3 linked regions of the Homo sapiens genome follow. The gene in region 1 interacts genetically with each later gene. Each region holds a gene or a part of one and is shown in the gene's direction. Other genes may lie near its edges.

Region 1 (7,674 bases):
ATTCCCAGGCGGTTAAGGCATTCTTAGCCACATGATGAGATAGGAGGTCAGCACTAAAGACCTTGCTGATAAAACAGGTTGCAGTAAAGAAGCCGGCTAAAACCCACCAAAACCAAGATAGTGATGGGAGTGACCTCTGGTGGTCCTCACTGCTACACTCCCACCAGCGCCATGGCAGTTTACAAAGGTCATGGCAACATCAGGAAGTTACTGTATATGGCAGCCTGAAAAGGGGGCCGGGCGCGGTGGCTCACGCCTGTAATCCCAGCACTTTGGAAGGCTGAGATGGGTGGATCACGAGGTCAGGAGATCGAGACCATCCTGGCTAACACAGTGAAACCCTGTCTCTACTAAAAATACAAAAAAATTAGCCGGGCGTGGTGGTGGGTGCCTGTAGTCTCAACTACTCGGGAGGCTGAGGCAGGAGAATGGCGTGAACCCGGGAGGCGGAGCTTGCAGTGAGCCGAGATCGCGCCACTGCACTCCAGCCTGGGTGACAGAGCGAGACTCCGTCTCAAAAAATAAATAAATAAATACATAAATAAGTAAAAAGGGAAGGCATGAATAATCCACCCCTTGTCTAGCATATCATCAAGAAATAACCATAAAAATGAGCAACCTGGCCAGGCACAGTGGCTCAAGCCTGTAATTCCAGCACTTTGAGAGGCCGAGGCAGGCGGATCACTTGAGGTTGGGAGTTCAAGACCAGCCTAACCAACATGGAGAAACCCCACATCTACTAAAAATACAAAATTAGCTGGGCGTGGTGGTGCATGTCTCTAATCCCAGCTATTCAGGAGGCTGAGGCAGGAGAACCACTTGAACCCAGGAGGTGGAGGTTGTGGTGAGCTGAGATCCCGTCATTGCACTCCAGCCCTGGCAACAACAGTGAAACTTCTCCCAAAAAAAAAAAGCAACCAGCAGCCCTTGGGGCTGCTCTATGAAGTAGCCATTCCTTTATTCCTTTACTTTCCTAATAAACTTGCTTTCACTTTACTGTATGGACTCGCACTAATTCTTTCTTGGGTGAGATCCAAGAACCCTCTCGGGGTCTGGATCAAGACCCCTTTGCGGTAACAGTACAAAGGGTCTGATTGTGAGAAGTGGCAGGGATCACTGGAACTCCACTTCAGATCCCATCTGGATCATCAAAACATCAACCCTAAATAAATAAATTCAGGAAATATGGTTAAATATAGAGTTTAGTTTAGCACAAAAGTTTGAGGACGGCCACCCTGGAACACAGATTCCAAAGAATGGAAATCAGCATTCCAAACTGAGGAAGTTTGGGGGTCATTTATATAGGTAAGGTTTGGGAAGCTTGACAGCGTTTCTACATATTTCACACAAGGCAAGTACATAGTTAACAGTAATCTGATTAGTCAAGGCAGTGGTCTTTTTGGGAAGGGTATATTTAACATTCACATAGAGGACATAACAGTCACAGGACCTTTTGCACTATCTGGTCTGATTTAGGTGCAAGATAATAGAGGAAAGGTCAGCAATGAAGAAGGGCGATCTTAACGCTGATGCCATTTAGTCTTGAAATGAATCTACAGAGCAAGAACAGGAGAGTTAATCTATAATCTATAAGCAGAAGTTGTAGTTACATGCTGTCTGGCTCAGATCACACAGTCCCGTTTTCTTCAAGGCTCAACATAATTCTTAGGGTTCAAAAGTGTATGATTAAGTTTGGATTTTTTTTTTTTTTTTTGAGACGAAGTTTCTGTGTTGCCCAGGCTGGAGTGCAGTGGCGCGATCTCGGCTCACTGCAAGACCCGCCTCCTGAGTTCATGCCATTCTCCTGCCTCAGCCTCACAAGTAGCTGGGACTACAGGCACCCCCCACCATGCCCGGCTAAATTTTCGTATTTTTAGTAGAGATGGGGTTTCACCATGTTGGCCAGGATGGTCTCGATCTCCTGACCTCATGATCTGCCTGCCTCGGCCTTCCAAAGTGTTGGGATTTCAGGCGTGAGCCACCATGCCCGGCCTTTTTTTTTTTCTTTTTTTTCTTCTGAGACGGAGTTTTGCTCTTGTTGCCCAGGCTGGAGTGCAATGGTGCGATCTTGGCTCACTGCAACCTCCCCATCCCAGGTTCAAGCAATTCTCCTGCCTCAGCCTCCCGAGTAGCTGGGATTACAGGCACCCGCCACCACGCCTGGCTAATTCTTGTATTTTTAGTAGAGATGGGGTTTCACTGTGTTGGCCAGGCTGGTCTCGAATTCCTGACCTCGTGAACTGCCTGCCTCGGCCCTCCAAAGGGCTGGAATTACAGGTGTGGGCCACCGCGCCCAGCCAAGTTTGGATTATTTTTACAAGATGATGCTGGAGAGTTTCTATGGCCACCACCATTCTAGACTCTGATACTGGCACTTAAAGCCTGCATGCTACATTTCCTGGACGCCGTTGCCAATTGGCAACGTTCCTGTCATGCTTTATTAGAACAAAGTTGGGAGGCAGAAAGAGGGGAGAAACCATTTTTTCAGACTTCTGCCAGTGGCTTAGGTGGTGGTGACAACAACAACTGTGACTTTCGCAATCATGGTGGAGGCAACTGTGGCTAGCAAGGGTGAACACATCTGGGATCCTTCTGTAGGCACAGTGATTGTGGGTTATGGGTCCTCCTGTGCTTTATTTATTTATTTATTTTGAGACGGAGTTTCGCTCTTGTTGCCCAAACTGGAGTGCAGTGGCGTGATCTCAGCTCACTGCAACCTCCGCCTCCCAGGTTCAAGTGATTCTCCTGCCTCAGCCTCCCGAGTAGCTGGGATTACAGGTGCCCACCACCACAACCGGCTAATTTTTGTATTTTTAGTAGACACGGGATTTCATCATGTTGGCCAGGCTGGTCTCAAACTTCTGACCTCAGGTGATCCATCCACCTCGGCCTCCCAAAGTGCTGGGATTACAGGCGTGAGCCACTATGCCCAGCCACCTCCCCTGCTTTAATCTTTCAGCTCTAGAGAGGCTAGCAGCCTCATATAGTTATGAATCTTTAGGTAAACTTACCTTCCTCTTTTGTTCTTCCAGTACTTCCAACACTTTTATACTCAGTCCCCTGTAGTCGTTTATGTATTCATTTATTTTTATTTATTTATTTTTTAGACAGAGTCTCGCTCTGTCACCTAGGTTGGAGTGCAATGGTGAGTTCTCAGCTTATTGCAACCTTCCCCTCCCAGGTTCAAGCAATTCTCCTGCCTCAGCCTCCTGAGTAGCTGGGATTACAGGCACCTGCCACTGCACTGGGTTAATTTTTGTATTTTTAGTAAAGATGGGGTTTCTCCATGTTGGCCAGGCTGGTATCAATCTACCTGTCTCAACTGGATTGCTGGGATTACAAGTGTGAGCCACAGAGCCTGGCTCAATCCCCTGTATTCAATATCCTCTGTTTGAAGTACCTAGAAGGACTTCTCTTTTCCTTATGGAATACGTACTGATAAAGCACTCAAGACTGTTAAAAACCTTCATTACTCTATTGATGTAACAAAAGAAGCTGAGGCAAAGTTAATATAAGTAGAGAGTTTGGGCCAAGGTTGAGGACCGCAGTCCAGGAGACACAGATTCAAGTTGCCCTGAATGTATGCTTTGATTAGCAACAGTTACAAGTGGGTTCTTTTTGTTTTTGACTTTGTTTTGAGACAGAGTCTCACTCTGTCACCCAGGCTGGAGTGCAGTGGTGCAATCTTGGCTCACCGCAACCTCCACCTCCCGGGTTCAAGTGATTCTCTGGCCTCAGCCTCCTGAGTAGCTGGGACTACAGGCATGCACCACCACACCTGCTAATTTTTGTATTTTTTTTAGTAGAGATGGGGTTTCACCATATTGATGTTTCACCATACTGGCCAGGCTGGTCTCCAACTCCTGACCTCATGACCCTCCCACCTCGGCCTCCCAAAGTGCTGGGATTACAGGTGTAAGCCACTGTACCTGGCAACAAGTGGGTTCTTGTCTTATTTATTTATTTATTTTTGAGACAGAGTTTCGCTTCTGTTGCCCAGGCTGGATTGCAATGGTGTGATCTTGGCTCACTGAAACCTCTGCTTCCTGGGCTCAAGCAATTCTCCTGCCTCAGTCTCCTGAGTAGCTTGGATTTCAGGTGCCCGCCACCACAGCCAGGAGGACGCCTTGCGGGGCAGGGTGAGGGGGGCAGGGTGCGGGTCCCCCAAATTAGCGCGCACACACACACACACACACACACACACACACTGCGATCCTAGGAACAGGGCGCTTTGCGGGGCAGGGTGAGGGTCCCGACCCTCCGCGGGGTGGGCGACCGCCTCCCCAGGCGCACTGGCAGGGGGACGGCATCCCTAACAGAGAACCAGGCCTCGGCATGGGCTGGAGGGATGACACAGCATGGTCGACTCGGACAGCGGCCAGCGGCATGAGAGTCCGAACAACGTTGGAAGGAGGAGTAGGGGAACGGGCAAGAGAGCACGGAAGACGCAGATGCCTCAGGCCCAGCCCCTCCAGGCTGCGTGTGGGCGGCCCCGCCCCTGCCCCCGCCCCTCCCGGCCTGACTGCACATGCGTGGCCCTGTCTACGGCCCCGCCCTCTCCCGGGACAGGCGGCCTGCGCACCGCCCTCCCGTCGTCCCAGTGCGCACGCGTGGCTGCAGCCCCGCCCCCGTTCCCCCGGCGCTCGGAGCCCGAGTCCGCGGGAAGATGGCGGCGCCGCTCATCCCCCTCTCCCAGCAGGTACGGGCCGGGCGGGCCTGGGGGCGGCGCCGGGGTGCGGGGCGCGAGGCGAGCGGTGCGGCGAGGCTGAGGCGCTGGGAGACTCAGCCAGGCGGCGGCGGGGGCGGCGCGTGCTGAAGGGCTTGCGGCGGGCGGGTGGGCAGGCGGCCCTGAAGGTGACAGGCCGGGACCCGCGGCCTCCCGTGCCCGAGCGACCCTCGCGGGCACCGGCGAGGCGAGGAGGTGCGCAGCGCGTGTCCTCTCCGCCCAGGGCCCGGACCCTGCCGCCGCTGAAGCTCCCAGGCCGGGGACCCGCGGAGGCGCTGGGCTGCATCCCGGAGGGGTGGGCGAGGGGTGCGAGCGTTTCTGTCGGCGCGGCGGCCCAGCGAGTCTTTGTCTCCCTCCGGTCCCGGCGCCCGGGCGGGCAGGGTCCCGCCGGAGCCCGGACCCGTCAGCAGCAGTGCGATCTCAGACTGATCCCCTGCCTCCTTGGAAGCTGCTTCCGCCACCCCTGCACCGGGCGCAGATCGTACGTCTCCGGGCGCCTCTCTGTGTCCTCAAATTCGCCTGATGCGCTTATGAAGGGGCAGTATCGATAGCGCGACACAGACATGCGAAAAAGAGCCATGCGTAGGCAGCTCTGTTATTTGGGAGAGACTTTCATTCATTCATTTTCTATCCATCCCTCAAATGTGCGTTGGGTCAGGTGCTGGGAGCGCTGCATTCTTCCAGACAGACAAGGTCGCTGCTTTCCTGGAGGTGACACTCGTGGGAACTAGAAACTACCTGTGTTATGCTAATCACAGCTGCCTTTATTTGCTGAATACCTGTGTTGTGCAAAGCACCATATAAGCATTTTGCTAGAATGATCTAGCACAGCATGGTGATTAAGAGTGAGGACACAGGGTCAGATCATGTGTTCAAATCTTGGCTCCAGCCCCGATTTCTCTGTGCCTTTGGTTGAAGCTCTTAGCCATTCCACCCATCAGTTGCTTCCTTTGGAAAATGGAGATATAAAAATGTGTTGGGATTATGTGAAAATTAAGCACGTGAAAAAGCGCTTAGAACAGTGCCTAGCATATGAGAGGCACTCAGTGATCCTATAATTACTGTCATCATTTAATCTCTGCCAGATTTGGACGTTTGGGAGTAGAGACCGCAGCAATTAAGAATTCCAAACCCAAAGAGAGTTGATAGGCCGGTTGCATGCTTGCATGACTGGTTAGCTGATCCAAGGAGAGAGAAGTGCACAGCTAGCCAATTTGCAACACTGTCACTAAGTTAACAGTGCTAAAACCCGGTGATTATTAATTAGCAAGTTCTTGTTACTGACATGAAAGTGCTCTGTAAACTGTTAAGTGTCCTACCGATAATAGGTGTTAATAGCTAAGTGCTACAGTTTAGAGTATGTAGTCAGGGGGTGGGGGGCGGGGAAGGCGGGAGTCGGGGGAAAATCACCTAAGATCATTTCATGAGAAAGCACTAAGCACTCCCAGTTTGGGAGGCGTGGATCTTTCTAAAACTTCCTGTCCAATTTTTTTTTTTTTGAGATGGAGTATTGCTCTGTCACCCAGGGTGGAGTGCAGTGGCATGATCTCAGCTCACTGTAACCTCCGCCTCCCGAGTTCAAGTGATTCTCCTGCCTCAGCCTCCTGAGTAGCTGGGACTACAGGCACGTGCTACCACACCCGGCTAATTTTTGTATTTTTTTTTTAGTGGAGACGGGGTTTCACCATTTTGGCGAGGCTCGTGTCAAACTCCTGAACTCGAGTGATCCACCCGCCTTGGCCTCCCAAAGTGCTGGGATTACAGGCGTTAGCCACTGCGCCTGGCCAGGTCACTGACTTCTTAGCCTCTTCCTGTTCCTTTCCCTATACATTTGTTGAATGAAGGCGTGGCCTGGTTTTCTTCGTTTGGAAATGTCAGCACTTCTTTACACTTGCTCTCGAGTGAAAATCTACACCATGGGTTACTGTTGGCCCAGGTGTGAGGCATGGCCCTCCCAGGCCCTTACTGTCTAGCTCAGGAGATCACTTGGGTTCACAGATAACTCTGGGGGAACCAAGGGTATAATTCCAAAATTTTTGGTTGGGGGCAAAAGGGAAGCACCCTGCAGCAGGTGGCTGTGATCTGGTTGGATTTAGGTGACAGAGCACACTTGGCAAGCAGATGGCCAGGTGAAGGTGAGCAAAGTGGATAACCCAGCGGGCTAGCCTAGGGGAGGAGGGGTGTGTTTTCTCCACCCCCACTCCTGTCTGCACTTTTCCCATCAGCATCTTTTTCAGTCTGTTCTGTACTCCATGACATCATCTCAGAATCTCCTTCCTTATATACTCTTTTCTGACCCTGAATATCAACGTAAATTCGAAAGGTCTGCACCTCTGCCTCTTTAGGAGTGATTTTTTTTTCCCAACAGCATCTCAGTGATTTGTGTGTCTCCCTGTCCCCCTGCTCAGCTCTCTTCTGCTTTCCAAAAAGCCTTCCGTGGAAATGCATCCAGATCTCTTTCCTCCTTGTACTCCCCGAGGTTACCGGTGGCCCCTCCGTCCTTAACCCCGGTGCCCTGTGGCTGCAGCCGATCCTCCTCGAACTCCGCAACACTGGAGCCCGTCGGTCTTCACTCTTCATCCTCTCTCCTTTCAGTCTCTCCTTCTTGTCCCCTAATTTCAGCCTCCCTACCTGCATCTTATCTCTCTGTGCGCTCCCTCCCCTGGAGCTTCTGTGCAGAGGACTTCAAACCTGCCTTCTAGAGTCCAGAAGGTGTCTCTCTCCTGCACCTCTGCCAGCCTGCTGGACTCTGGAATGGGCCATTTCCTTGCCATGCCCCAAAGTGGTCTGGGCCATTCTACTTCCTACTTGCCCACTCCCTCCCACTTAATCCCACGCCACTGTGGAAGTCATCTTTTTGATTTTTGAGACAGGGTCTCGCTCTGTCCCCCAGGCTGGAGTGCAGTGGTAGGATCATAGCTCACTGCAACCTCAAACTCCTGGGCTCA
Region 2 (7,035 bases), on another chromosome or scaffold:
ACCACATCTGGCTAATGTTTGTATTTTTAGTAGAGACGGGGTTTTGCCATGTTGGTCAGGCTGGTCTCGAACTCCTGATCTCAAGTGATCCGCCCGCCTCGCCTCCCAAAGTGCTGGGATTACAGGCGTGAGCCACGGCACCCAGCCTGCTTAGCTTTTTGGTAAAGCATTATGAGACTAAACCAGGGAGTGATTCTCACAGAGGAGGATTTAGAGAGCATATTTTGGTGTTTGGGAAATGAGAAGCTAGACCAACCCTTTGTTAGTAGGAAATGAGAGTGAAATGAAAGATCAAGAGGTTAGGCCAGTAAATGAAGCTGAATTGAAGGTATGTTGAGAGTGAGAAATTTCAGGAGAAACTCTGCAAGAAAGCTGGAGTTTCCCTATAATTAGCATGACAAGGGCAAGGCATATAATCCTTGTAAAGGGGTCTTAACACAGTATTACCTGTGTCCCTTTGATATGCTGTGGGAAGGAGTGGGAGCTGGCAGGTGGGCTGTAAGGCAGAATGTGAGGCAGGGGATGCTTATTTCTGGAGGCATGGCTCCATGGTGGCACGGAGACCAATTAGCATCTTAAATCCCCATGATTGATTACCTGTAGATTAGGGTTTGGTGTTGGTGGGAAGTGAAAATTGTGGTCGGCTGACAGCCTGCATGTTTATTCATTCGGTCAGTCAACACGAACTTATTCAGTGCCTATCAAGCGCCAGACACTGTTTTAGGTACTGGAGATACAGTAGTGATAAGTTCCCATTTTCACGGAGCTGACATCCTAGTGGAAGCCATGGACTATAAAGAAATCGTTCTGTATTGCTAAAAGCTATGAAGTAAAATGAAGCTCTGTGGGTTAGAGTGATACCAAACTGAGGTATGATGCAAAGAGAAGAAATATTATTATTAATTTTTTTTTTTGAGATGGAGTCTCGCTCTGTCGCCCAGGCTGGAGTGCAGTGGTCCGATCTTGGCTCACTGCAACCTCCACCTCCTGGTTTCAAGCGATTCTCCTGCCTCAGCCTCCCCAGGTAGCTGGGATTACATGTGCACACCACCACGCCCAGCTAATTTTTGTATTTTTAGTAGAGACGGGGTTTCACCATGTTGGCCAGGCTGGTCTCAAACTCCTGACCTCAGGTGATCCACCTGCCTTGGCCTCCCAAAGTGCTGGGATTACAGGCGTGAGCCACTGTGCCTGGCCTCGAGAAGAAATATTCTTTGTTAAAATGAAGAGGATATTGAGGGAAGAAATTGAAATACCACATTAGCACCGTAGCCACAGAAAGGAGACAGCAGGATGACATTATTTTAAAGGCCAGTTTTCTGTTCAGTGGGTTACAAATATGTCTCCTTCATAAGGGGATAGAGTCGTCTGGGGGCAGTGAGCAAAATTACTAGAATTCCCAGCTGGTTGGATTGGCCGATGTAGCAAAGTTGATGGTTCCAGCCAAAGTTGAATTTCCTAAGATCTGAAGAAAAACACACATTTTAATATTGGTGGGTGGGTATGACTCTGCCTGCATCCCTGCATGTATGAACTCATTCTTGTTCTCTCTTTTTTAATGAGAAATATTTTCTCAGCTGTAGCAAAAACCTACAGCGTTGGTGTGAGGGGTTGAGAGAAAGGCTGCTAGTTTCTGCTGTTCCTAAATTTACATACATACTGCCACAATTGTAGGTCCCACACCTGACCTAGTTTTATTCATTTGGTTTTCTTCCAGTACCTAATTTCCTTAACCTAGATGTGGATCTGTTTAATTTCCCCAACATACACATATGCTTGTTTGTTTAGTTACATTTCTAATTCTTGGAGGATGAATCTGTCATTTGAATCTTAAGACGTGGTAAAAATTGCTGCTAAAAAGCATCTATTTGCAAAGCAGTGCTTTAAATGTTCTTTCTTGTTCTGGTTTGCCTGAATGCGTCTGTGAATGAACCACTGTTCCTCAGAAAGAAAATGGATGTTGAGGCCTGAGATCTCATTGACACAAGGATGGACGCTAACTTTGACACCCAGTTTTTTCAGCAAAGTATGACATATTTCCTTGATGTGGCTGTTTGGGTCCATCTTCAATCCATCGTTCTTCAGGTGTTTGTAATAGACACTTATCTCTTCTATTTCTGCCCAACTTTACTGTGATCACAGGAGTCAGAATTAAGGTGGGCAGAGCTCTGGGCTGGGTGTCAAGAATGCACTTGACAGCTCTTTATTTGTGACAAGTTCCTGCCCTCCTTGTGCCTTACTTTCCCTGTCGGGCTTGCTGGTGGTTCTTAGTTGAAGCATTTTAATCTCCATGGGAGGAAAGGTACAGTATGTTCTTCAATAATTCAGTACTTTTCCATCTGTCTGGGTTGGAGAGGTACACATGTACCTTGCCCCTGTTTTAGTCCCATCCCTCCATCCCCTCCTCTGTCACCTTTCATGTTGACCTCTGCTGGGCAGAGGTGGACAGAGTCTCTCACTAAATTACAGATGTAGGTGCTGTTTCATAAGGGGTGCATGAACCACTTGAAAAGCCCCGAAGGAAGTGATAAATTACTAAAGGGATGAGAAAAAGCTCGACGTGGGGTGGTGGGCGGGGGGGTGGGGATGAGAGAGGTGAGGGCAGAGGGAGACATGTAAAAAAGATTGAGGTTGAGCCTAAAGGGAAGGGCGGCTGGATGCTATCAGGAGTCTACCTGGCTCTAATCAACAGGACAGCTGTTTATCATTGCTGCTGAGGAGGAACAAAGGAAATGGGTTGAAGCAGAATTTAGATCAGGAAGAGGGTTCCTAAAATTAGTGAAATTGACCCTGGAGCAGGGTAATAGGAGAGCCTTCCTCTTAGGGACTATTAAAAGTTCCTAACAGGGACTCTTCATGGTGATGTTTGCATCCAAGATAAGAGCTAAACTGGTTTAGTTGTATCCTGTTCAGAAGCAGAGGAGTGAAATCCCAGAGCAAAGAAACACGATCTGGGGTGTATGAATCTGAACACAATTGTTCAAAGGCAAGGATTTCCCAAGTCCAAATTTGGCACAAATGAAAAAGAACTTGGGTGCTGGGTGGAACTGGTTTTTTTCCATTGTTGACCTGGCAGAACTTTCTTATCTGAGCAGCTGAGCAGGTTTGATGCTTTTATGAAGCAAGATAGAAGCAAAAATATGGGCCAGCATGAGGGTGATGATCACAGAAAAACAAAAGGTGTGGTATTTGTGGAAATAGTACTATGCCTAATGGAATCAGAGAGGAGACGGGAGGGAGGGAAAGAGAGAGGACTGGGCAGTTGTTAGCAGCTACACATACAAGTGGCTTCAGCTGCCAAATAATTCAGAATACTTCATATGCCCTTTAGGTGCCCTGTGAAAAAGAAACTGAAGTGGATAAAGACAACCTGACTGGCTGGAGGCTTGAGTCCTAGTAATAATGTACTTTCCATTGGAAAAACTTACTCTATTCTGAGAAAATAAATTGATCTCTGTTCCTCCCCAGCACTTCCTGGTTAGAAATACCAGAATGAATTTGCTGTGATTACCTCTTTTGGGAGGAACCTGAGAGTTATGTTGGGGAGCTGGGTGCAAGTGGGAGAGCTGGGCCTGTTTAATTCCAGGCCAGTGACTCACATCTGGTCCGCTGCATGACCCTGGTGTGTACCCAGTGAAATGCAGCACACCTAGGCCACATGGTTTTAGCTACCAGGAGGAAGGGGGCTCTCGTTTCTAAATTGCTTCTTTTGGCCAGCAGTGGCCTCTCTGTGATTCAGAAAGAAAAACTCTGACTCATAGGCCATGTAACTAGGCCCCCTTCCTAGGCTGCAGTGTTGCCTTGTAGAGAATTCTCCCTGCCCCCAGACTGTGGCTCTGGTTGTACAAAATCCAGTCTACAGACATCAAGGTCAGAGCAATGCTTTTTGTACTGTGCTATGGAAACATCCTGTTCCATCAGATTCATTTGGCCCAAAGCACCTAAATCATTTCTTATTTTCTCTGCCTTCCCATCATCCTGTCACGTCTGCCGCCCCCCCCGCCCGCCACCCCCACCAAAAATAAACTCTTTTAGTCCAGGCTCAACCATAAGTTCTGTTCTAAGCATCCCATTTTGATTGATGCCTGGGTTGAGTCCTGCCTCCTCCCCCTAACAAGGAAGCATACCTCCCTGTTTACAGTTCGCTAACAGTTCCTGGTTATCCATTCAGGAAATGTCAATGACCTTTTTGTGATAGGCTTAGAATCTGTTTTTCTAGTGTAAACATAATACATTTTACCTTCCCCATGACTGTTTCTCTTCCTTCCGCAACTGCTGCATCCTGGAGTCACGTTCTCCCTGATCCATCAGTGCCTGACTGAATAGCACCCTACTGCAGTAAGAAGTACCTTTGTCCAGGCTTCCTGGGTTCTTCTTGTGAGCTCCTGGTGATAAGATAACTCTGTCCTATAATTTTTGTATCCCCCACAGTGCCTCCCATAATGCCTTGTGTTTTGGCAAAGTAAATTTTGTTTGTAGGAGGTGAAGGAGAAGACCTTTGAGATCACAGGGACAATGAGGTCTGGCTAGACTTCAGAAAGCCCTGACATTCTGAAGGGGAAGGGCCTAGTGGTTAAGGTGAGAAAGTCTAAAAGCAGGCTGGCTAGAATTAAAAGCAAAACCAAACCAAGCCATTAGCAAGAGAGGCCTTAGGAGAGAGAATGGACTATCTCTGAAATGTGATCGGAAGACAGTCTTCGGGGCAGACCAAGCTTAAGAGCTATTGTTTGATATGTAGTAACAAAGCCTTGCTTTCGTTTTTCCCTGAGCTTATCTTTCCTTGGGGGCATCAGTCCTCTTTGATATTGCTTGTCTTTTATAAGAGCATTTTTGAGACCCTTTATACCTAAAGGTCTAGCAGCAGAATTGCTGCAAACAGCGTCAACTGGAGCCTCCAGTGTCCTGTCCTTTGTTAAAATCCCATAATGAGTAATTTATCATCCGCAGGGTGGCCGCCCTTACTGTTCACTCTGTACTGAGTCCGCCCACTCCCTGCCCCCCACCCCCACCACCGCTGCTTTTGCTTACACCTCGCTGCTGTTCTCCCAGACTTGGCAGGAGCACTTGGATTCTGTGTGTGCACCTGTTAGTGTGAATGTATGTTTTCCCCACCTTCTTTGTGAATTTTCAGGATTTTCATCTGTTAAATATTTTTGTCTCTTTTTCCCCCTTTGCGCTTCCTGAGGATGTCAGCCAGGACCCTATTCTGGATTTTTATTTGAGCAACTCGATTTGGCCATTTTTTTTTTTTCCATGAGAGTAAAAGTCTGAAGAGGCCTCATCTGCTGAGACTGCTTCCCTCCTGTCCCAGGATCTAGCTTGTTTTGGTTTGGGCAGTTTTGTTTAATCCAGTGAGGGTAGTAGACCTAGACCAGAATAATACTTAAGGTGCAAGGACAGGGGAACCTATGAAGCCCTGCCTGGCTTAGCCCCAAGTTTCCTGTATTAGAACACTCCTGAGACCAGTTGAGTGGGGACAAGGAAGCCTTCTCTTCTCTTATAATCTCCACAGGGTTCCTGGAGGCAGAACTGGATTCCCAGGGAGTTAACAGAACATACAGAGGAGGCACAAAAGCATTGCCACAGGTTACATATTCCTCGCCCATGCCAGCCTTATAGCTCATGGTTGAACTTGACTTCTTCCTGCTTTATTGAGAGATACAGAAATAAGAAAATCAAATATTTCTTTTCCTAGAGATGGCTTCCTGAAAGAGAGGGACCCTCTCCATCCCACCACCACTCCACCCTTCTTTGTAGACACAAGGAGGACCAGCTGGGCTAGAGACTGTTTTTTGTCACCATATCCTGTTTTTGTTAGTGTTATCAAGAATAGTACTGGGCCTTCATTTTTGCCTTCCCTCATGCTTGAAGGATTTGTGTTTTTGTGGGCCCTGGGACCTTGGGGATGGGCTGTAGGTCTAAAACAATGATAAAGTAGGAAGTGGGAAGTGGTCACGTGTCTGAGTTCCCAGAAGTACCCCCCTCGGCCTACAGGCTGAACACTGAAACTACTGGGATCTGAGCCAGGCTAGAGGAGGCTTCTGGATGGGCAGGCTCTACCTTTCCTCTCCAGAACTACTGGGATCACAGGATGTTCCTGACTCTCTCTTCCCTGTCTCTTTGGAGATTCTTTTTTTTGGGGGTTGGAGGGGGGTGGTGGGAGTGGGGACAGAGTCTTGCTGTTGCCCAGGATGGAGTGCAGTGGGGTGATTTTGGCTCACTGTAGCCTCTGCCTCCCAGGTTCAAGCGATACTTGTGCCTTAGCCTCCTGAGTAGCTGAGATTACAGGCGTGCACTACCATGCCCGGCTAATTTTTGTATTTTTAGTAGAGACAGGTTTTCACCATATTGGCCAGGCTGGTCTCGAACTCCTGGCCTCAAGTGAGCTGCCTGCCTCGGCCTTCTAAAGTGCTGGGATTACAGGTGTGAGTCACTGTGCCTGGCCTCTCTTTGGAGACTTCTAATATCTCCAAAATATTCCAAATATTTCCCTTCTTTCCTGGAATTAGGAAGTAGCTTCAGATGGGGGGGTTCTATCTGAGCTTAGTTTATATGCTATTCTTTCACCCTTTCTCCCTCCTCCTCCTCCTCCCATGAACAGCCTGCCATGCTAACTGCATTATACTTCTCTTTCTTCCTGTTTCTCTCCCATAGGAGAGGGCTGAACCCCCCTCATCGTGTCAAGTCAATCTCCATGACAACTTTCACTGAGCCTGAAGTAGTATTCCTGCAATCCCGTGGAAATGAGGTGAGCTGCCACCGATGGAGTGGTGAGAAGGTCACCTATCTGCAGGTGGGGCTTTGCCTCAAGATTGTAGGGAAACCTTACGGTTTTATTTTTGGTTGAGTTTCTCTTAATTTTTTCATATGTATGATTTCTTTCCTTAGGTATATTTACAGAATCTTTATTCTGTTATACAAATCATGGTTTGTCTAGGCCTCCTTTTCAGGAGTCAGGGGAAGTAGCAATATCGTTGTAGGATGTGGCACCTGAGCAATGGAGGGGTAGAATGACCAGAGCTCCAGAGCGTGAGC
Region 3 (7,655 bases), on another chromosome or scaffold:
GGTGCCTTGGCAGCCAGATCTGGGTTTGAATCCTGGCTTCATGCCTCACTTCTGGCATGGCCTTGGGCAGGCCAGCCTTTCAGAGCCTTAGTTTCCTCATATATAAAACAGCGGTAATAATACCTCTTTCTGCGTTGTTATGAAAGTTACGGAAATTAAAGTAAATAAGTAGTCTTGCTTGATACACAGCAAACTCTCCTTGGGATATTTTAAAGTAGAAACCAACTTTGATACTATGTATGGCATGAAACAGCTAACATCCAAAAGGGTTGTATAAACTTTCAGCTTGAGGAAAACATTCGCCTTCCTACAGGTCTATAGTTTGGAAATACTGCACCTACATTTGTCTCTCTCTCTCTCTTTTTTTTTTTTGAGACAGGGTCTCGCTCTGTCACTCAGCCTGCAGTGCGGTAGCACTCGCTCTGTCACTCAGCCTGCAGTGCGGTAGCACGACCATGGCTCACAGCAGCCTCAACCTGCTGGGCTCAGGCAATCCTCTGGCTTTAGCCACCTGAGTAGCTGGAACTATAGGCACATGCCACCACACTCAGCTAATCAATTTTTTTTTTCTTTTTGTAGAGACAAGGTCTTACTATGTTGCCCAGGCTGGTCTTAAACTCCTGGGCTTAAGCAATCCTCCTGCCTTGGCCTCCCAAAGTGCTGGGATTACAGGCATGAGCCACTGTGCCCAGCCTTACTCCTGTCTCTTTAAAACAACTAAAACACAATAATCAACCAACCACTCATTCCACTGTTTGCATACATAAGGTGCTACAGCCATGCCTTCTGATTTTGGAATTTATCAGATGATAGACCATGGAGAGATGAGCAACCAGAGAACAAACAAATGACAAAGGAGCACTGCAAATATAGAAACAAATAAGCCACTGGCTGTGGCGTGAGGGCATTTGTTGGTTATGAATAAGAGACTGCTGGGTGTCATATTTAGCCAGCATGGGGCTGGTCAGTAAGCCTTCTGTTTGGATCAGTCAAGAATTCAACATTGCTTTCATCTCTTGAATGGCCCGGGGCCCTGTCAGAATATAACTCCAGGGCCAGTCTCAATGGCTCATGCCTATAATCCCAGCACTTTGGGAGGCTGAGGCTGGTGGATCACTTGAGGTCAAAAGTTGGAGACCAGCCTGGCCAACATGCTGAAACCTCATCTCTCCTAAAAATACAAAAATTAGTCGGGTGTGGTGTCGGGGGCATCTGTAATCCCCGTTACTTGGGAGGCCAAGGCAGGAGAATCACTTGAATACAGGAGACAGGGCTGAGATTGCACCACTGCACTCCAGCTTGGGCAACAGAGTGAGACTCCATCTCAACAACAACAACAAAAACTTCAGTTGACTTCAGGATTAAGTCAAGGGTCTTGTCAAAATACTCAAAAGCCAGCTTTCAGTGGTTCCCACTGGCCAATGATGAGACAATGTGAGCACTGGGGATGTAAAATATATTAAATACATTTAAATCCTTGAGTTTGTAATAGCACTTTAAAAATATTGATCGCCTAGCCTGGGCAACATAGCGACAGCTTGTCTCTACAACAAATACAAAAGTTAGCCGGGAGTGGTGGTCCTAGCTTCTTGAGGGGGTGTGCCGAGGCAGGAGGAACACTTGAGCCCAGGAGTTCGAGGCTGTAGTGAGCTATGATTGTACCATTGTACTCCAGCCTGGGTGACTGAGTGAGACCCTGTCTCCAAAATATAAATATAGATATATCTATATATCTCTGTCTATATATATTGATCACCACTGGAAGGTGAAATGAAGCCAATACATTATTTTGAAAATTTGTGAATAAAGGAAAGGAATCAAATATTTATCCTGCCTTTCTGACATGTACTATACCAAATAAAATGGTAGATGAGGGGAAATTTTTTCTTTATAGAAAATTTGAGCTGATAAATGAAGGAATGGTAGAATTAGTTTTATTTATTTATTTATTTTTATTTTTTATTTTTTTGAGACAGAGTCTCATTCTGTCACCCAGGCTGGAGTGCAGTGGTGGGATCTCAGCTCACTGCAACCTCCACCTCCTGGGTTCAAGCAATTCTCCTGCCCCAGCCTCCCGAGTAGCTGGGATTACAGGTGCCTGCCACCATGCTCAGCTAATTTTTGTATTTTTAGTAGAGACGGGGTTTCGCCATGTTGGCCAGGCTGGTCTCGAACTCCTGACCTTAGATGATCCTCCTGCCCCAGCCTCCCAAAGTTGCTGGGATTACAGGCGTGAGTCACCGCACCCAGCCAGAATGGCAGAATTAGAATATCAGTATTTTCTAATCATTAATGAATTAATGAATCTAGACATTAATCATCAATGGTTACCAACATCATGAAAAAGATATCCTCTCCTCAATTATGTCCCTCTTGATGGAAGAACACAATGAAATGAATGCCTGCCCCGCAAAAATACTGAACTGGATACTAGTGAACTAGATCTAACTACCAATTTTTAGGAAATAGAACAGAGGGACATGTTAAATGATACAGATTATGAGAAACTCTACAGAATAAAGTGCCCAATTACTAAAACAAATGAATTATAATTAAAAAAAAAGAGATGGTGGAGAGACCCAAAGAAACCTTATGAGACATATTACCCAGTTGCAAGGAGTGGGTTCAAACAAACTGTAAAAATCTCATTAAAATATTGATAATTGCCAACTTAAACACTAGTGCGATATTTGATGATCTTTAGGAGTTATTAACTTTTTTTTTTTTGAGGCGGAGTCTTGCTCTATTGCCCAGGTTGGAGTGCAGTGGCACAATCTTGGCTCACTGCCACCTCTGCCTCCCAGGTTCAAGTGATTCTCCTGCCTCAGCTTCCCAAGTAGCTGGGACTACAAGTGCATGCCACCATGCCTGGCTAATTTTCATATTTTTAGTAGAGACCCGGTTTCGCCATGTAGGCCAGGCTGGTCCTGAACTCCTGACCTCAGGTAATCCACCTGCCTTGGCCTCCCACAGTGCTGGGATTACAGGTGTGCGCCATCGTGCCCAGCCTATTGTTAACTTTTTAGATATGCTAACGGTATCATGGCTAAGTTTGAAAGAGATAAAGTTTTTATTTTTTAGGGATACAAATGGAACTATGTACCATTTAGATGAATGGTACGAAACCTAGAATTTGCTTTAAAATAATAGGAGAGGGGATGGAGGGTTGAGGTATTTATAAAGCAAGATTAGCCATGGGCTTAATCATTGCTGAAAGTGGTCCATGGGCTCATGGTAGTTTGATATTTTCCATAATAGAAAAGTTTAAAAACATTCATTGGCCAATCTATCTGTCCATTTCTTTTAATATTAAAAACATTAATTATTATTAGTAGTATTATATTAATATGAAGTCTCACTTTGTTGATTCACCCAATCCCTTTCATGAGAGATGTGGAGGTTGGTCTTGGCTGTTAGGAAACGTAGATTCTAATCCATTCAACAGCCCAGTGATTTGAGAACTTCAGCTCTCTGGGTCTCCCTGTACTCCTTTGGAAAACGAGAGACGAAGTTGATTGTTGCAGTGGGGATTTGGGTCCTGCAGTCTGGCTGTCTGGGTTGGAATTGAGCTTCGCCATAGGTACCCTTGGGTAAATTTACTTAATCCCTCAGGGTTTCATCTTCCTGTTTTGTAAAATGTAAATAACAATAACGCTCACCTCGAAGGGTTGTTGTGAAGATTACATGAACGATTTCATGTATTCATTCCGTCAACATTGAACACCTAGTCTCCAGCTCTGCGAGGGGAATGGGGTGGAGTGGCACAGAAAATACGGGGGCCAGGCTGTTTAGCGCCTAAAGGGAGAGTCCAGATCACCCATGGTAAACACGAAATAAGATGCAGTATTTCAAATAGCTAGAACTGAGACGAAAATACAACGCAGCAATTTGATGGAGAGCAACTTCGAGAAAGGTGAGCTGCAACATTAACTCGGCTGATCTGGGACAGTCTGGCGGGGGAGGTGACATCTGAGCCCCACCTGACTTAGAGGATGTCAGCTATGGATGATCCGGGTTTCCACACGCAGCAGTTCTCAAGCCAGGTGACTGCACCGCCCTAAAGTTCCCTCCACTTTTGGCAATGTCTGGGGATTTTTGGTTGCCAGCAATGGGAATTGGGGGGTTTGTTCTTGTATCTAGTGGGTATAGGCTAGGAACGCCGCCCAGTATCCTACAGTGCACAGGACACCCCAAGCCCCCCCAAATTAGCTGGCCCAAAGATAAAGAGAGAAGAGCAAGGGCAAAGGTCCTGCAGGAGTCAGAAAGGAGCTTGCTGTGTTCAGAAAACTCAAAATCCAGTGTGGCTGAGTGAGGACGACGAAGAATGAGGTAGACTGGGCTAGACTATGGAGCACTTTTTACGGCACGGTGAGGAATTTGGAATTATACTCAAAGCAGTGGAAAGCCCTTGAAGAGTTTTAAACAGAAGGGGAAGGTAACCCATGTGAAACGCTTTGCATATATAAGCGCTCAATAAATACTGTCTATTATTAATATTATTATCACCATTGTGTCTACCCTACTTGGCTCCAGACCCGGCCCATGCCTCAGCGAGGCCGCAGTGACTCCTCCTGGCCAGCAGAGGGCGCCAGCGGACACTTGGCTACCGGCCGCCCAGGGCGGGCCTCCTCTTGCCGTCCCCTTCCTCGTCTTTTCCCCTCAGGAGAAGTCGGGAAGGTGGCGGCGGCGGCGGCGGTTGTCCCGGCTGTGCCGGTTGGTGTGGCCCGTCAGCCCGCGTACCACAGCGCCCGGGCCGCGTCGAGCCCAGTACAGCCAAGCCGCTGCGGCCGGGTCCGGCGCGGGCGGCGCGCGCAGACGGAGGGCGGCGGCCGCGGCCAGGGCGGCCCGTGGGACCGCGGGCCCCCGGCGCAGCGCTGCCCGGCTCCCGGCCCTGCCGGCCTCCTCCCTTGGCGCCGCGGCCATGGCGGCCAGCGCGAAGCGGAAGCAGGAGGAGAAGCACCTGAAGATGCTGCGGGACATGACCGGCCTCCCGCACAACCGAAAGTGCTTCGACTGCGACCAGCGCGGCCCCACCTACGTTAACATGACGGTCGGCTCCTTCGTGTGTACCTCCTGCTCCGGCAGCCTGTGAGTGCGGGGCGGCCGGGCGGGTGTCGGGCCCTTCCCGGGAGGTGGGGGAGCGGGCGGCGGGACCGGGACCCTTCCGGGGCTGGGAAAGAGCCGGGTGCCGTGGGAGGCGGTCGGGGGCGGCCGTTGGGCGCCGGCTGGCGGGCGCGGCGTGGGAGGCTGCGGGCTGGATGCGCAGGGCCCGGGCAGCCGGGCTGGGGATGCGTTTTCGGTTTTGCCGGGCGAGGGTTTACGTTCTGGGCAGCCTTCGTGGGTGGGACGTGGGCGGGGTTGGGGTCAGGGAGGGGGCGACCGGGGCGAGCGTCCCTGGTCTCCGTCGAGCCTGCGGCCGCCGCCCTCGCTCTCCAGCTACCCGGGGCGCCGGGCTGTGGGGGGTGGGGGAAGACGCTAGGAGGCCGGGGGGGAGGTCCATGCGGGTCCTTTGTGTGCCCCGCCTCTCAGCGGCCCGGGAGCCGCGGTGCGGAGCGAGGCACCTGCTGGGCGCTCCTGCTGGGGGTCGGGGAGAAGCTGGGGTGGGAGGGAGGGACGCCTGCCTCGCCCGTGCCTTTTTTCTGGGTCGAGAGTACCTACGTAACTGGGAGGAAGCAGGCACTTAGGAATAGTAGCAGGATGAAAGCATCTTGATGGCAGATGTGAATCCCCTGGGAAAAGTTCGAAAGGATTAATTGCGGGAGGGGGAGGCAGAGGAGCAGATTTGAAGCTGTGGGATTTTAGTTTTATGGTCCGAAGAGAGTGTTGAGGAGTTGGGGGAAAGTTTTAATGGCAATAAGGTACCCACTAGGAGCTGTGTGATTCTAAATATGATGGAGTTATCTGTGAGATTTATCTGTATCTCGCTATCAATACCCGAGTGCCCTGGCTGTACACAGAAATGAGGAGAGCTAGCAAGTCACCATGATTTCAGAAAGACACTACCGTCCTGAGTTACTGGGATGATTTGTGTTTGTTGTTCTTTGCTTCATTAAGCTTTATTTTGATAAAGATTTTTATTGCCGTGCAATTTCATTCGGAAAATTTGCAGGTGGTTTTGGAATTGATAAAATGCTTTTATATTATTATCTTGTATTTAAAGTTACTAACAACGTGGCAGTTACTAAGTATTTTTAAAACCTTTGCTTGTAAGATTAATACAAAGCACATAATACTTTATGTGGGAAAATTGATTTCTTAAAACTTAGAAAATGCAGAACATGTCTAGTATGTACTATTTGCTTTTTAAAGTTGGGCAAAGAGGCATTATTAGTATTACATGAGTGTTATTTCTTCAGCAGACATTTTTTTTGGTGCCTATTAGGTTGTGTAAGGCCCTGGGGTGTGCCAGTAAATATAGCAAAGTCTTGTTCTCTTGGTTCTTACAGTCCAGTGGGGATGCAAAAGTAAGAAAAATGTCTTGGGCAAGTACTATGCTGAACATGAAAATTGTTTGATAGGAGAGTGCTCATGGTTACTTTTAGGCTGTGTGGCCAGGGAGACACTCTGAGAAGTTGCCAGTTAATAATATTCTCGAATTACTACAGAATCACAGAGCTAGGTGATATCAAGGAGGTAGCCTGGTTCATGCATTTCATTTACAGAAAAAGGAGTTAAGCTAGAAAGTTGTTACTTACGTTGGACAATATTGGTTCCAAAATGAAGCCAATAGAACAATTGTAATTGTATTTGATTTTTATTACATGGTTAAGATGTATGTCCTGCTTTTACTAAACACAGGTCCTTTAATCCATGTAAAGTATTTGATTTGGAAAAAATACATATATTTACACTTCCGGATTTCTGACATTTCTGTGTAGTCCCTGTAAGTACAGCAGCAAATGTGTAATATCAAGGACATATTTTCAAATTTCTTCCTAGATACCACATTTCAGAAACATTGTGCATAAAAGGATATCTCAGTATAATGACAATTATTTATCTTAATGGAACTTAATCTGTGGCAGATAGGACTTCATTTCTCTATTGAGTCATTCCACAAATATTTATTGCCTACTTGTCCTGTGTCATAAGTTACCTGGATCTTAACTGTTCTATGGAGCGTGCCTTGTAAGTATGTAAACGTAGAGTTACAATATATTGTAGTATTTCCTTTCTGTGAATGAGATAGCCAGGAAATATGTAAATGATACAGCTTCTCTGGGAGTTGATGCCTGAGCAAAGACCTTTAACGAGAAATTCTGCTTCATATGTTTGAAAGATCAAGTACTTATGAGCTAGGTACACATGGCTTTGAATCCTGACTCCAAGTATTAGTTATACGGTATTGAGAATGTCACTCAATCTATTTGAGCTTGATTTTTCTCTTATATGAAACAGTGAGGATAAGATTTCCCTTGTAAGTTTTGGATGTAGATTTGTTTTCAGTATTAAAAATAATGTATGTTAAACATCTCACGTAATGCCTGGTATATAGCAAGTGCCCTATAGATGAGAAGCATCAAGGAAGAGGACATGCCATGAGTAAGGGAACAGTACTGTATGTGAAAGATATTAAATAAGAAATATCCTAATAAAAATCTGTCACTTTGGATTTTATGGTTGTAACTCAAAACCGGAATCTAATTGGTTTAAAA

Evidence for each region.
Region 2: of EPS15L1 (region 1) and AGFG2, changing one enhances a phenotype caused by changing the other (phenotypic enhancement), as found in Homo sapiens cells (one study listed by BioGRID).
Region 3: of EPS15L1 (region 1) and AGFG1, changing one enhances a phenotype caused by changing the other (phenotypic enhancement), as found in Homo sapiens cells (one study listed by BioGRID).

Annotation. Positions count from the first base shown.
Region 1 is NC_000019.10:16,468,938-16,476,611, reverse strand, and holds the start of EPS15L1 (epidermal growth factor receptor substrate 15-like 1), read left to right. Parts: upstream 1-4,641; 5' UTR 4,642-4,666; coding exon 4,667-4,699; intron 4,700-7,674.
Region 2 is NC_000007.14:100,542,168-100,549,202, forward strand, and holds part of AGFG2 (arf-GAP domain and FG repeat-containing protein 2), read left to right. Parts: intron 1-1,299; exon of another isoform or gene 1,300-1,465; intron 1,466-4,240; exon of another isoform or gene 4,241-4,338; intron 4,339-6,654; coding exon 6,655-6,748; intron 6,749-7,035.
Region 3 is NC_000002.12:227,467,501-227,475,155, forward strand, and holds the start of AGFG1 (arf-GAP domain and FG repeat-containing protein 1), read left to right. Parts: upstream 1-4,655; 5' UTR 4,656-4,921; coding exon 4,922-5,088; intron 5,089-7,655. UniProt on the Homo sapiens protein: Required for vesicle docking or fusion during acrosome biogenesis. May play a role in RNA trafficking or localization.